2 linked regions of the Homo sapiens genome follow. The protein of the gene in region 1 interacts with the protein of each later gene in a pairwise test. Each region holds a gene or a part of one and is shown on either strand. Other genes may lie near its edges.

Region 1 (7,537 bases):
TAACAGGCCTGAGCCACTGCTCCGACCGATTTTTTTTTTTCTTTGAAGTTCCGGGGTACATGTGCAGGATGTGCAGGTTTGGTACATAGGTAAACGTGTGCCATGGTGGTTTGCTGCACCCGTCAACCCATCACCTAGGTATTAAGCCCAGCATGCATTAGCAATTTTTCCTAATGCTCTCCCTCCCCCTACCCCATTCTCTGACAGACCACAGTGTGTGTTGTTCCCCTCCCTGTGTCCATGTGATCTCATTATTCAGCTCCCACTTACAAGTGAGAACATGTGGTGTTTTGTGTTCTGTTCCTTCGTTGGTTTGTTGAGGACAGTGGCTTCCAGCTCCTTCCATGTCCCTTTGAAGGATATGATTGTGTTCCTTTTTATGGCTGCATAGTATTCCATGGCGTATGTGTACCACATTTTAAGTACAAGGGACGTGAACAGATACGGGAGTTGAAAAGCTTACCTCAGACTCTGTGGAGGTTGAGTTTGGAAGATGAGATGACTGCACACAGCAGATAGGAGGCTTTTGCAATAGTTCACATGATGAGTTTTTCATTAGGAATTACTTGAGGATGATGAAAAAGATTATTTTGTTTAAAAACTATCATTTCTAGAGATAGTGAAGCATAATTGAGGCGCTTCTGGTAATTTGATTTCTTTTATTCTAACTGAAGGAGTTCACTTTAGTTCCACAAACCTTTGATGGGCACCTTGGCTACCTGAAACACTGCATTTAAGATGTAAAGATGATGTGGTCTCTGGTGTCAAGAACTTGATGCAATGAGGCTTATTCTCTTGTCTTAAATAATGTTATTAAGTTGTACCAAAATTTCCTTTGCTACATAAGCAGTAAATGTCACTTTGTCTTTTTCTATTCCAAAGAACGAAACAAAAAACTTATTTTTAATCAAATTGTAATTGTCTTTTGATCCGGCAATTTCCTTCCTAGGCATTTATAAATATCCTTTTCCTAGAATCTTCATTTAGTACAAGTCTTTTTATATGTTTTTATATGTTTCCCAGCTATATTTCACCTAGCTAATTCATACTTCATTCTTTCATGTTGGCTTACATGTTACTTCCTCAGGGATTCCTTTCTTGACTAGTCAGAATCTACACTATAGAATCTGTATTATGCGTTGCCATAGTAACCAGTACTTCATAGACTTTATCATACTTCGTAGCATCCAGTATGTTTTCTTTGCTAAGATTATTGATTTTGTATTGAAGGGTCCCATGTCCATCGTTTTCAATGCTTTATCTCCAGGGTTGGAGCATGCCTGGTAAGTAGGACATAAATTTGTCTCACAAATTAAACAGCTTTATGAAGACATAATTGACAATAAACTACAAATTTAAAATGTACAACTTAAGAAGTTGTGATATATGTATACACCCGTGAAATCATCACCACAATCAAGATACTAAACTTAGCTATCATTCCCAAAGTTTCCTTGTACCCTTCTGTAACCATCTCTCTGCTCCTTCTGCATTCTAGGTTGACAGTTTTTTCTTTCAATGCTTTAAAGTTATAGCCTCAGTCTTGCTTATATTGTTTCTGATGAGAAATCTCACATTATCCTATCTTTGTTGCTCTATACATAACATGCCTTTTTTCTTCTGTTTTAAGATTTTTCTCTTTTACATTGGTTTTGAGCAGTTTGATAATATTGTGGCCAGCTGTGGTTTTCTTTATGATTCTTATGTTTGGGGTTTGTTGGGCTATAAACTGCGGACATATAGTTTTTATCAAGATCAATGGCAATATTTTGGCTATTATTTCTTCCAACTTTTTCCCCTCCTTTTCTCCTTTGAAGACTCCAGTTACACATTTTTAGATCACAGAAGTTGGTCTCAGCTCATGAATGCCCGTTTCATTTTTTCTTCATACTTTTTTCTGTTTTATTGCCAATAGTTTCCATTTTCATGCCTTTAGTTCCGTTTACTTTTTTTTTTTGTAATATTAGTCTCTTGTTAATCCCATCTGGTGTATTTTTCATCTTGGACATTGTAATATTCACATCTAGAAGTTTGATTTAAATCTTTTGCATCTTTCTTGCTTCTACTTACTTATGTTGAACATACATGGAGTACATGTAGCAATAATTGTTTTTACATCTTGTTCTGTGAATTGTAGCTTCCATGTCAGTTTTATATTGGCTTCTATTGATTGGTAATTCTCTTCATTATGGATTTTGTTTTCTTTCCTCTTTGCATATGTGGTAATCTTTGATTGGATGCCAGACATTGTGAATTTTACCTTGTTAGGTGCAGGTTATTTTTGTATTTTTATAATGTTCTTGAGTTTTTTTTCCGGGATATAGTTGAGTTACTTGGAAACAGATTAATTCCATTGGTTCTTGCTTTTATGATTTGTTAGTCCGATCAGGAGCAGTGCTCAGTCTAGGGTTATTTCCCACTACCGAGGCAAGACTTTCCTGTGTACACTACCCAGTATCCCACAAATTAAGGGTTTTCTCCATTCTGCTTATTGGGAGCAGTTATGGTTCCTAGCCTTATGTGAGTGCCCAGGATTTCTCTTCAACCCTTTCAGATGGTTCTTTCTGTAGCCTGGGGTAATCTCCTCAAACACATGCCATTAGTACTCTTGAGTACTTGAGGCAGACTCTCAGATCTCTGGGCTTCTCTCTGCATCTCTCTTTTCTCTGCTACTCTGTCTAATGACAGAGTAGTAGCCTAGTTTCTTCAACTCAAGGAGGTTGAAGTCAACTCTGCATACAAGTACTCTGGCCTTTTTCTTTCTTCAGAGAAGGGGGAAGAAAAGCTGGTGAAGATTTACACTACAGTTAAAGGGAGGGAAAAGCCATGTAACCGTTGTATTTATGTAGAGTTGACTATACCTCACTTTCCCTTCTTTGTGCTGTGGTCTGGAAACTCCTCAAGGCAGTAAACTAGATTGGTGGTGGGGCTAATCTCATAAGTGTCCTTTGTTGTTTTATGTCTGATGTCTTGAAAACTGTTGTTTCATTTAACTTTCTCTGGTTTGTTTCATCTTATTGGATGTTTCTGGTGGAAAGATAAATCTGGTTCCTATTCTTCCATGTTGGCTGCAAACAAAAGTTATTCAATGTATATTTTTAAGTGAAAAAATATTTTCTGTAGAATAATAGAGCTAGAAACAATTGAAAAGGGCTAATGAGTATAGTGAGAAAATGGATGTATAAACAGCTTTTTAAAGAAGTTTGAGAAGAACAAGGTAGGGGAGAGCTCTGCTTTAGCGGCCAGGCAGAGAAAAGGAAGCCTTTTTTATTTGTTTATTTTGCGAGTGGGGAAGTTTCAGCATATGTAAGTGGAGGAGAAACACCAGTGGACAGGAGATAACTTCTGGCAGGAGAAAATTGAATCATAAACACCTGTGTGGGAATTAGCCTTGAATGGGAGAAAAGGAACAGGGAAATCAATGCTTAATCTTATGTGCCATGCATTGATAGTAAATACATTGCATATTTCGACTGAAGCTTGTCAATGTTTTGGTACAATTAGTATTACTAACCTTTATTATAGATGAGGAAATGGGCAATAAGATGAGCTAACTTAACCAAGTTATTCATCAGTGGCAAAGCTGACCCTAAAGCTCATGCTTTTCCTAATGATCTTTGTGGTCACTCTGGCCTTTTTCTTTCTTCAGAGCAGAGGGAAGAAAAGCTGGTGAAGATTTACACTACAGTTAGAGTAAAGGGAGGGAAAAGCCACGTAACCATTGTATTTATGTAGAGTTGACTATAAAACTCATCTCTACCCTTATGGAGGAAAAGATGGGGAAAATACCCACATGAATGTGTTGAGGTCAGAGAAGTATTGCATAAAATAATTTTATGGGAGCAGTGCTCTTAACTCTGGTCCTCCCGTGTTCTTTAAGTCTCGCTTTAGAATTTGTGGACTTGTACTTTTACTTTTTTACACCTTCATAGATAAATAGCAAGCTCAGTAACTAGGTGAAAAGAAGGCTTATTGGGTTGATTCTAGAAGCTAAGTGGTCCATGAAGTGACCTTTGTAAGTTAACGTTCTTGGCCTCTCTCTTCCCCCTCTTTAAAGATTATTATACTTTGCTTATGTAAATATTAGACTGCATCATATTTAATTGGTGTCAAAGAGTTAAATATTGGCAATATCATGTGGTTCAAGTAATAGTGTATTTTGAGAAGCCAAGAAACAGTAATGAATATCATCGTTAGCACTATTAGTGCAGGAGACAGGTCTGTTTTATTCACTGTTTGTGCCCAATGCCAACCACAATGTCTGGTACATATAGTAGATATTCAATAAATAATTTATGAATGAAAAACTATAGCCCTTTGAGGTCCCATGAGGCTTTTGTGGTTTTCATGTGTGAAAAACTAGGTTTTGAGGTTCGGTAAGTATTTGGGCAAATGTTAAGGGAGACTCTTCTTTTGAGGCCCTAAGTTCTTTTTAGAAGACTAATCCTTATCAGATTTTTCAGCAAAGCTCTTTTATTTTCAATGCAAGGTATCATTAAATAATAAAATATTTACTACACTGGCTTCTCTGTAAAAAGTTCTTCTTCTTCAACCCTTACAAAGATCTATGCAGAGATTGAAGCCTCGCTGCCCCCTACTTCTTTTTTTGGGAGAACTCTGCAAAAGAGCTCTGCCAGTAGCTAAGAACTGTCACATTCTGGACACTGCTTTTCTACTTTCAGTTGCTCTGCCTCCCACTTTTATAATCAAGATAATTGACATGGTCATCATCATGTGATAACTTTTCCTTTCTCATTTGAGGCCAGAGAGGTGTCCTTTTTCTATGCGTTAATAGAGATTTTACAAAATAGCATGTAATATGGCCTAGACTCACATCTGTGTCTTAATAACTTATATAAATTATTTTGTTGGAATGAAACAATCATGAAGTGTTGTAATAAGACTGATGTCTAAGAAGCCTCCAGTTTGTTCAGGATTGCCCAGAGGTCTTTGCACAGATATGAAGAAAATGTATTTGTTATATCGTTGTCTAATATTACTGCTTCAGGCCCTTATGTTACCATGCAGTTTTCCTGCAGTATCGAGTTTCATCCACACAGTGGTGCTAGAAAACCAAGAATACATATTTCTAACTGTTGCTTATAAAATAAGTGGTGTTATATGTTTCCTCAACCTCTATCAAATCTATCATAATTGGATTTTTACCTGTGAGATGTTTCCATTATCTCTCAACCAGATGATTGCAATAGCTTTCTAATGGATCTTCCTGGATTTACCCTGCTTTATTCCAATTTGTTTTCCATATTGTAGTTATAAGTACTCTTTTATAAACTCAAATCTGAACTTTACTCTCCTGCTTAAAAACTGTTAATGAATTCTTTTAAATTGAATTTGTCAACAAAAATAAATACAGTCCATTCATAATCCAGTTCTTGCTGAGTTTTCATTTATTGCAACCTTTCCTGTACAAGTCCCCTTGTTGCTCTGCATTTCGGCCAGTGTGGCCTTCTTTGAACAGTGTGGCCTTCTTTGTGTTCTTTGAACACAAGTTTTTCTTCCTACTTTTTACAGATTTTCCTTCTGTCTGGAAAAGTAGAGGAGTGGGTATGCATGTATATAGGTGTATTTTTTATTTTAAAAATATGTTAAATTGATAAACTGGGATTTTATGTTATATTTTGATGCATGCATACGGTGTGTAATGATCAAATCAGTATTTAGGGTGTTCATCAACTTCAGTATTTACCATTTCTTTGTGTTGGGAACATTTGAAATCTTCTAGCTATTTTGGTACTCGCTGTTTTGAAATACACAATATATTGTTGTTAACTGTAGTCACCCAACTGTGCTATCAAACATGAGAACTTAATCCTTTTAATTGTATGTTTGTACCCATTAAGCAACCTCCCTTCATCCCCCACCCCCATCTTTCCCAGCCTCTGATAACTATCTTTCTACTCTCTCCCTCCATGAAATCCACTTTTTTAGCTGCGTGTATGATGTCTTTCTGTACCTGGTTTATTTTATTTATTTATTTTTGAGATGAAGTCTCACTCTGTCCCAGGCTGGAGTGCAGTGGAGCGATCTCGGCTCACTGCAACCTCTGCCTCCTGGGTTCAAGCGATTCTCGTGCCTCAGCCTCCCCAGTAGTTGGAATTACAGGCACGCACTGTCACACCCAGCTAATTTGTTTTTTGAATTTTTAGTAGAGACGGGGTTTCATCATGTTGGCCAGGATGGTCTCAATCTCCTGACCTCGTGATCCGCCCGCCTTGGCCTCCCAAAGTGCTGGGATTACAGGCCTGAGCCTCGGCGCCCGGCCTTGTGCCTGGTTTATTTCACTTAATGACCTCCAGTTCCATCTATGTTGCTGCAAATGATAGAATTTCGTTCTTTTTTATGGCTGAATAGTATTTCAGTGTGTGTATATACTACATTTTCTTTATCTGTTCATCCTTTGGCCACTTAGGTTTCCCCCATGTCTTGGCTTTTGTAAATAGTGCTGAAATAATCATGGAAGTGACGGTATTCCTTTTGATATACTGACTTTCTTTTGTTTTGATAAATATTCATTTGTGGGAGTGCCTATTGTGGTATAGTAGTTATAGTTTTAGTTTTTTGAGAAACCTCTTTACTATTTTCCATAATGGCTATACTAATTTACATTCCCACTGACAGATTATATGTTCCCTTTTCTCCACATCCTTGCCAGCATTTGTTATTTTTTTTTTTTGTATTTTTTTGAAAATAGCCATTCTAACTACAGGAAGATGATATCTCATTGTGATTTCAATTTGCATTTCCTCAATAATTAGTGATGTTGAGCATTTTTTCATGTAACTGTTGGCTATTTATTTATATATTCTTTTGAGAAATGTCTATTAAGATCTTTGCCCTCTTTATAATGGGACTTTTTTTTTTTTGCTTCAACAGCAAAAAAAATTTTCATTCCTTACGATTGAATAGTTTGCAAATATTTTCTCCCATTCTATAGGTTGTCTCTTCACTAGGTTGTTTGTTTCTTTTGCTCTGCAGAAGGTATTTTTGTTGTTGTTGTTGTTTAGTTAAATATAATCCCATTTGTCTTTTTGTTTTTCTTGCCTATGCTTTTGAGGTCTTAACCATAAAATCTTTGCATAGACCTATATCCTGAAGCATTTCTTCTCTGTTTCCTTTTTGGTATTTTTATAGTTTTTGAGTTGATTTTTGCATATGATGAGAGATAGGAGTCTAATTTTATTTTTCTGCTATGGATATCCAATTTTCACACCATTTATTGAGGAAGGTATCCTTTTCCCAGTGTATGTTCTTTGCACCTTTGTCAAAAATCAGTTGGCTACATGTACATGGATTTATTTCTGATCCATGAGCATGAGATGTCTATTTGTGTCCTCTTCAATTTCTTTCATTAATGTTTTGTAGTTTTCTTGTAGAAGTCTTTCACCTTCTTGTTAAAATACTTTTTCTTAAGTTAATTCTTTCTTATCTTTTATGTCGTGGCTCAAACCTTGGAAAGCTTTTGTTAATCTCCCCAAATAGAACTCTTACATTATGTGTTCTCATGGTACCCAGTGAT
Region 2 (7,674 bases), on another chromosome or scaffold:
CGGAGTGTGGGCTGGGAGATAGGTGGGAAAAGCCCTATCAGCCCGGGCTCACCAAGGGCCAGAGTTGGGAGAAGATACCTCCTGTCTCCACAAAGGCAGCCCACACTGACTGGTGGGGCCAGCTCTCTTTGGCCCTCCCACCACCTTGTTACAGCTGCCACCTCTCAAGGAAAGCTGGGTTGAGGCACTTACATCATTGGACTGAAAGAGCTTGGTCATGGCAAAGAAGGCCTCGGTCGCTTCCGTGGTCCCCAGGTGCTCCCCCTGTGTTAATCAAGAAAGAAGTCTCAGCTTGGGACAGAGGGTCAGACAGCAGTTCTTTCAGGATCAGCCCACACCAGATCCCCAGACCCTAAAGAGGCTCAAGGGCAACATATGAGACTTGGATGCTGAGGGGACCCAGAGCTGAGCTGTTGTCTACAGCCACACAGAGGCTGTCCAATAGCCTAAGAGTGATCATGATTTGTCCACTCCCCTCCAATCCCCCAGCACCATTCTCCCTACCCGCAAGCTTCACCCTGTTACCTGGTTTATGAGATAAAGAATCTTGGTGAGGATGTGGGCACATTTCCGAGGGTTGATGGGAGTTTCATTAAATACACGGGCCTAAGAAGAAATGACCAAAGATGTTACCTTCTAGCCTAGTTCATTTCCCTTCAAGTATATTCAATGTCTGAGAAGTCTCAGGGTAAACTGACTTGTCTAAACAGGGCTTTCTGGGTATGCAACAAGCTTATTTTCATAAGGAAAGGGTTTGTTTTTCTTTAATCAACTACTAATTATTCTTAGACTCTCGTGTAAATATTAGTTAGGGATGTGCTAACCTATTGACTAGCAGATACTTAGCAACCATCTGCTAACTGGAAACAGAAACAATGAACGACAACAATAAAGAAAGAAGCGGCTGGACGCAGTAGCTCACACCTGTAATCCTAGCACTTTGGGAGGCCGAGGCGGGTGGATCACCTGAGGTCAGTTCGAGACCAGCCTGGCCAACATGGTGAAACCCCGTCTGTACTAAAAATACAAAACTTAGCCAGGCATGGTGGTGGGCACCTGTAATCTCAGCTACTCGGGAGGCCGAGGCAGGAGAATTGCTGGAACCCAGGAGGCGGAGGTTGCAGCAAGCCAAGATCATGCCATTGCACTCCACCCCAGGCTGACACCAGCAAGTCTCCATCTCAAAAAAAAAAAGAGAAGTGGCCGGGCGCGGTGGCTCACGCTTATAATCCCAGCACTTTGGGAGGCCGAGGCGGGAGGATCAAGAGGTCAGGATTCACACCATTCTCCTGCCTGGCCAACATCGTGAAACCTCATCTCTACTAAAAATATAAAAATCAGCCAGGCATAGTGGCGTGCGCCTGTAGTCCCGGCTACTTGGGAGGCTGAGACAGAAAAATTGCTTGAACCCAGGAGGCAGAGGTTGCAGTTGAGCCGAGATCGTGCCACTGCACTCCAGCCTGAGCAACAGAGTGAGACGCCTTCTAAAAAAAAATACATATATATATATATATAAAAAATATATATAATAAAAATAAACAAGTCATGCAAAATCTCTACCTGCATAATGGCCACAGTCTAGCTTAGGTGATAGTTTTAAACCAGTTTCCTTAGCTTTGGAATTAACTTTAAATAGAGAAATTTTTTAAATGTTTAAATAGAGAGGCCAGGCGCGGTGGCTCAAGCCTGTAATCCCAGCACTTTGGGAGGCCGAGGCGGGTGGATCACGAGGTCAGGAGATCAAGACCGTCCTGGCTAACGCGGTGAAACCCCGTCTCTACTAAAAATACAAAAAATTAGCCGGGTGTGGTGGCGGGCGTCTGTAGTCCCAGCTACTTGGGAGGCTGAGGCAGGAGAATGGCGTGAACCTGGAAGGCGGAGCTTGCAGTGAGCCGAGATCACGCCACTGCACTCCAGCCTGAGCGACAGAGCAAGACTCTGTCTCAGAAAAAAAAAAAAAAAAAAAAAAAAAAAGAAGTAAGCATAACTAACTCTCTCCAGAAACAAAGTTTTCCTGTCTTCCAGAAAACTTCCAGGCACAAGTTTTCTCCCGTGTTGCTCTTTAAAACAACACTTTGAATGTGTTGGTATTTCAGTTGCATTGGTGGTGAATATTTATGATGGAAGCTAGAGGGGAGCAAATGTCACTTGCCTCCTGGAGTACCGCACTCTTCTCAAGGTGCTGGAATGGGTTGGAGCCTCCACCTACGGTCAAGGACAATGGAGAAGGTAGGTTGTGACTCTGAACTTCAAAACTCTCCCAGACATAGGTAAAGGGAAGATGTCCCTTCCTAGGAAATCTAGTAAAGTTCAAACTCCTCAGGAATGGCAATCAAGCCTCTACAATCTGTCTAGGGATCCTACTAGTCTCCTGCAAGCAGGTGGGCTCCACTCTACCCCAAACCACTCACAATCTCCCAGCAGCCCTGGTACAGTCCTGTGCTTCTCATGGTGCCATGTCTTGTGTTCATTTATATAACTTGTAATTAACTAAGTCCCTATGTGCCAGGGACCACCATCTCGTTGTAACTAGTTCCTTCATAGCAGATGACACATTTGCAAATAATTACACGTGTGATTATCTGGTTGATGTCTGCCTCCTCCATCGTGGGTGCAACCATTCTAATATTCCTAGCTCAGGCACTGAGTGTCCCACTTGCTCTGTTGCAGTATCCAGGACACCGTACAGTACCTGGCATACAGTAACTGCTCAATATACTTTGCTGAATAAATGAATGATGGGGTCAGAGTTCCCAGTCACAGGACGCTGGCTCCGCAGGTTACACCCCAGTTTGGCCAGCACCAACGTAGCCCCAGCGAATCCCAAGAGGTTGGACGAAGAAAGTAACAAGAGAACATTCGGCATGGTCCCCTCCTTTGACAGATGGGTAAATTGAGGCCTGGGGGGGGGGGTGTTTGTCGCGCCCAAGGTCACCCAGAAAATTGCAGTCCGAGCTTACAAGAGTGAGACAGCCGCGCATGCTCGGGCTCTCCGAGGCCTGCCACTGACTAGCTGTGGACCCTGGCACAAGCCCCTGCCCCTCACTGGGCCTCAGCCTCCGGGTCAGGACAGAGAACCAGAAGGAAAGCTCGGCGGGTGGGGGTCCGGCCTCCCTCAGACCCAGGCCTGGCCCCCTCACCTGACTCCTCATCCTTCTTGTCGAATTTCTTCAACATAGTGGAGTCGGTGGGGCGCAATGCAGCAACGCAATGCTCGACGGGCGCGGCACGGAGTAGCGGTGCCACAGTGGTTCTACAGGGACCACTTCCGGGCCCCGACTGGCCACGTCGCCCAGCGCTCTGCGCAGGCGCATTCCGCGCTCTGCGCCTGCGCTCTTTCCGGTAGCCACAGCCTCGTCTAATGTTAACCTTAGCTCCGCCGGAGCGGGAGTGGGGAAAGCCAGACGGAGGGGCAAGGGCTAGGTGCAGGGGGGTACTGACTAGCATCCCAACTCTGCTCCCTACGCTTCTTTCCGTATACCAAGGGAGGAGGAGGAGCCCCTGCCTCGTTGCGTTGTGGCGTGAGTCTTTGTGGCTTTCGGGTGTGAGGTTGGTGGCACACACTGGCCCGCAGTAAACACCCAATTGATGTGACCGGTCTATGACTGTTATTGCCACCTTCCGAAGGAGCCTTGCCAGCCACTCACTCCTCGCTTTCAGATTCTTTCCCCTGCCTGATTTCCTCCTCAGCTCGAATCGCCATCTAACACTTTATTTTTACTTTCTGGCTTTTATTTGTTTATTTATTTCTCGTTCTGCTGCCCAGGCTGTGGTGCAGTTGTGCGATCCTGGCTCACTGCAGCCTACAGTTCCTGGGCTCAAGCGATCCTCCCACCTCAGCCTCCCGAGTAGAGCTGGGCGCACCACCCCCGACTAATTTTTTAATTTTTGTAGAGACGAGGTCTCACTATGATGTTGCCCAGTCTGGTCTTGAACTCGTGGCCTCAAGCGATCCTCCTTTCTCGACCTTCCAAAGTGCTGGGATTACAGCGGTGAGCCACTGCACCCGGCCACTTTCTTGCTCTTTTGTTTTTTTTTTTGTTATTTGCTTGTTTGTTTGTCTTTTATTCACTGCAGTGGATAATGTTGGCACATAGTAGTTGCTCAGTGAGTTCTCGTTGAATGAATGCGTGCAATTGCATTTTTAATTTATATCTGCCGGGCCCTATCTCGTCTGCTCCTGATGCAAATTGCCTTGTACATTATCAACCTTAAGAGATCTAACTAAACAGCATAGAACTTCTACGTTATTTTGTAAATACTTTGGATATTTATGGAGTGCCAACTAGATGCGCTGCCTACGCGGGGAGGTGGGGGGAAGGGCGTGGGAAGGAACGGAAAGGGGAAAATGACACATCACCCAGGGTTTATCTTCCTGGGGACCTATGCAGGACACCCTGAGGCTAAGGTAAGCACAGTGCATGCCAGTGAGCCAGATTGCATTGGCAATGGCAAAGTCGTGATGGCCAAGCGCTGCGACACGGCCCCAGCTTGCCTGGGGAGGGGAAGCCCGCAGGCCTGTGGGCAGGAGAAGGAGTGGGCTGTGGAGAGGAGAGGCAGGAGGCTGAGGCAGAGGCCCCAGGTGAAAAGGGTGACCGCAAAGCTGGAGGAAGGGAGATGTCAGAGGGGCCAGCCCTTAGGGTCTGGCTTTGCAGAGGCTAGGGCCAAGGACAACAGATCTTGTGACATGCAAAATTGTCAAGAGTCAGAAAGATGTTCAAAATGTCTGATCGGTAACCCCACCCCTAATCAGGAGGAAATTGTTCAAAAGAAGAAAATGAGGCCGGGCGCAGTGTCTCAAGCCTGTAATCCCAGCACTTTGGAAGGCTGAGGCAGGTGGATCACCTGAGGTCAGGAGTTTGAGAGCAGCCTGACCAACATGGTGAAACCCCATCTCTACTAAATACAAAAAAAAAAAAAATTAGCCTGGCGTGGTGGTGCATACCTGTAATCCCAGCTACTCGGGAGGCTGAGGCAGGAGAATCGTTTGAACCTGGGAGGCGGAGGCTGCAGTGAGCTGAGATCACGCCGTTGCACTCCAGCCTGGAGTCTGGGCAACAAAAGCGAAACTGTCTCAAAAAAAAGAAAAAAGAAAATGAAGTTGCCTGCTGCAGCAGTTTGCAGCAAAATAATTGTAAACACCCTAAATGTCTATCAATAAAGGGATGATTAAGGAAGTTATGGTACATCTGAGGACTAAACTGATTTTTATCTTGTCTCAGCTACTCCAGGAGTCTGAGATGGGAGGATTGCTTAAGCCTGGGAGGTCAAGGCTGCAGTGAGCCATGATCATGCCTCTGTACTTCCAGCGTGGGCAACAGAGCAAGACCCTGTCTCAAAAAATACATAGGGGTGGCCAGGCGAGGTGGCTCACGCCTCCAGCACTTGGGAGGCTGAGGAGGGTGAATCACCTGAGGTCAAGAGTTTGAGACCAACCTGACCAACATGGTGAAACCCCGTCTCTACTAAAAATATAAAAATTCACTGGGCATGGTGGCAGATGCCTGTAATCCCAGCTACTCGGGAGGCTGAGGCAGGAGAATTGCTCAGGAGGTGGAGGTTGCCCTGAGCCAAGATCGTGCCATTGCACTCCAGCCTGGGTGACGGGCGAGACTCTGTCTCAAAAAAAAAAAGTGTATATACATATATATATATATACACACACACACACACACACACACACATGCATATATAAATAGGTGTACAATTCAGTGGGTTTTAGTATATTAAAAAAAGTTTATGTACCTGTCCGCACTAATTGGAGAACATTTTCATCATCCCAAAAAGAAAGCTATTCATTAGCAGTCACTTTCCATTTGCCCATCTGCCCAGCCCCTGGCAACCACTAATCTACTTTCTGTCTATAGATTTGCATGTTCTGGATATTTCATATAAACAGAATCATATGCTATGTAGTCTTTTGTGTGTTTTGCTTCTTTCATTTAGCATGTTTTCAAGACATGTTATAGCATGAATCAGTACTTCATTCCTTTTGTAGCTGGATAATATTCCATTTTATGGATTTACTATATTTTGTTTGTTAATCAGTTGATGGACATTTGGCTTGTTTCCAGTCTAGCTCTTGTGAACAAAGCTGTGAATGCTGTGAACATTAATGTACAAGCTTTTGTGCAACCCTATGTTTTAACTTCTCTTGGGTCTATACCTAAGAGTGGTATTACTAGGTCATATGGTAACTATGTTTAACTTTTTGAGAACTGTCTAACTGCTTTTCCAAAGCAGCTGCACCATTTTACATTCCCACCAGCAGTGTATGGGGGTTTCAATTTCTTCATATCCTTGTCAACACTTGTTACTGTCTTTTTGATTATAGCCATGCTAGTGGGTGTGAAGAGGTTTCAATTTGCACTTTCCTGATGGCTACTGATGTTGAGCATCTTTTCATGTGCTTATTGGTCATTTGTACATCTTCTTTGAAAAAATAGCTGTTCATATCCCTTGCTCGTTTTAAAATTATTTTATCTTTTTATTTAGAGTTGTATGAGTTATTTAAGTCTAGACCCCTTCTTCTTTTTTTTTTTTTTTTTAGACAGAGTGTAGCTCTGTCACCCAGGCTGGAGTGCAGTGGTGCAATCTCAGCTCACTGCAACCTCTGCCTCCCAGGTTCAAGCGATTCTCATGCCTCAGCCTCCCTAGTAGCTGGGACTACAGGCGTGTGCCACCAGACTCAGCTAATTTTTGTATTTTTGGTGGAGACGGGGTTTCACCATGTTGGCCAGGCTGGTCTTGAACTCCTGACCTCAAGTGATCCTCCCGCCTCGGCCTCCCAAAGTGTTGGGATTACAGGCATGAGCCACCATGCCAGGCCAATAGAGATTATTTTTATGATTCTTTATAACCACCACCACCTTCCATATTCTAAGGATTTCCGCAGCCCTCTTCTGAGATGCACTCTCTTGCCCTCTAGGTGGCACCAACTCTTTAATTTTACCTCTAGTTTTTTAGCGACGGCACAGCTGGAAGAGGCTTGAAGCCCCCATGCCAGGCCCTGTCTGTCCACTAGGGTGACCCAGGGCAGTTTCAGAGTCCGGGGACTAACTCCCTTCAATATAACAGGGAGACTCAGGACTACCCTTGCTTTAGAGGCAGCTTCCAGCCTCATAAAATGAGTTTTCCAGTAAGTCACCTGTTTTCTTGTCCACCCACGCCCACTTTTGAAACTATGCCCTCACTCATTCGGCATTTGTTGAGCACCCACTGTTACATAATACTTGTAAAAATAGCAAGTACTCTATACATATGAGCTGTTGTTAACAAAAATTAGACTTTTTTAGGATGAGATCATGAATATAAGCGCCCCCGCCTTTGCAAACTGTGAAGGGCAACATTGTGCTAAGGTGTGATCATTATTGGGGCAGGAGGACCACAATACAAGTGCTAGCGTTTATCAAGGACTCACCAGGCGAGAAGCACTTCATGTATTTTATCCTGAGCCCACCTAATGAAAGTTCAAAGTAAACATCATGCTGACTTCACTGGCACAAACCTGAATCTCAGACATTATGTACATTGATGAAGGACACATGCCAACTGAATGACACAGCTGGGAATCAAACCAGTTTCCTGGGTTTCCACAGACTGCTACTTACCCTGAATCACAAGCCATCAACTAAAAGGAGAGCTCGGGGTAAAATCAAGGTTTGACCTGGACAC

The links.
Region 2: the proteins of NUDCD1 (region 1) and COPG1 interact in binary tests that used the Homo sapiens proteins (3 or more experiments, as listed by UniProt).

The regions. Positions count from the first base shown.
Region 1 is NC_000008.11:109,323,551-109,331,087, reverse strand, and holds part of NUDCD1 (nudC domain-containing protein 1), read left to right. Parts: intron 1-1,153; exon of another isoform or gene 1,154-1,252; coding exon of another isoform or gene 1,253-1,283; intron 1,284-7,537.
Region 2 is NC_000003.12:129,245,213-129,252,886, reverse strand, and holds the start of COPG1 (coatomer subunit gamma-1), read right to left. Parts: upstream 3,282-7,674; 5' UTR 3,178-3,281; coding exon 3,141-3,177; intron 2,206-3,140; coding exon 2,153-2,205; intron 607-2,152; coding exon 526-606; intron 265-525; coding exon 193-264; intron 12-192; coding exon 1-11. UniProt on the Homo sapiens protein: The coatomer is a cytosolic protein complex that binds to dilysine motifs and reversibly associates with Golgi non-clathrin-coated vesicles, which further mediate biosynthetic protein transport from the ER, via the Golgi up to the trans Golgi network.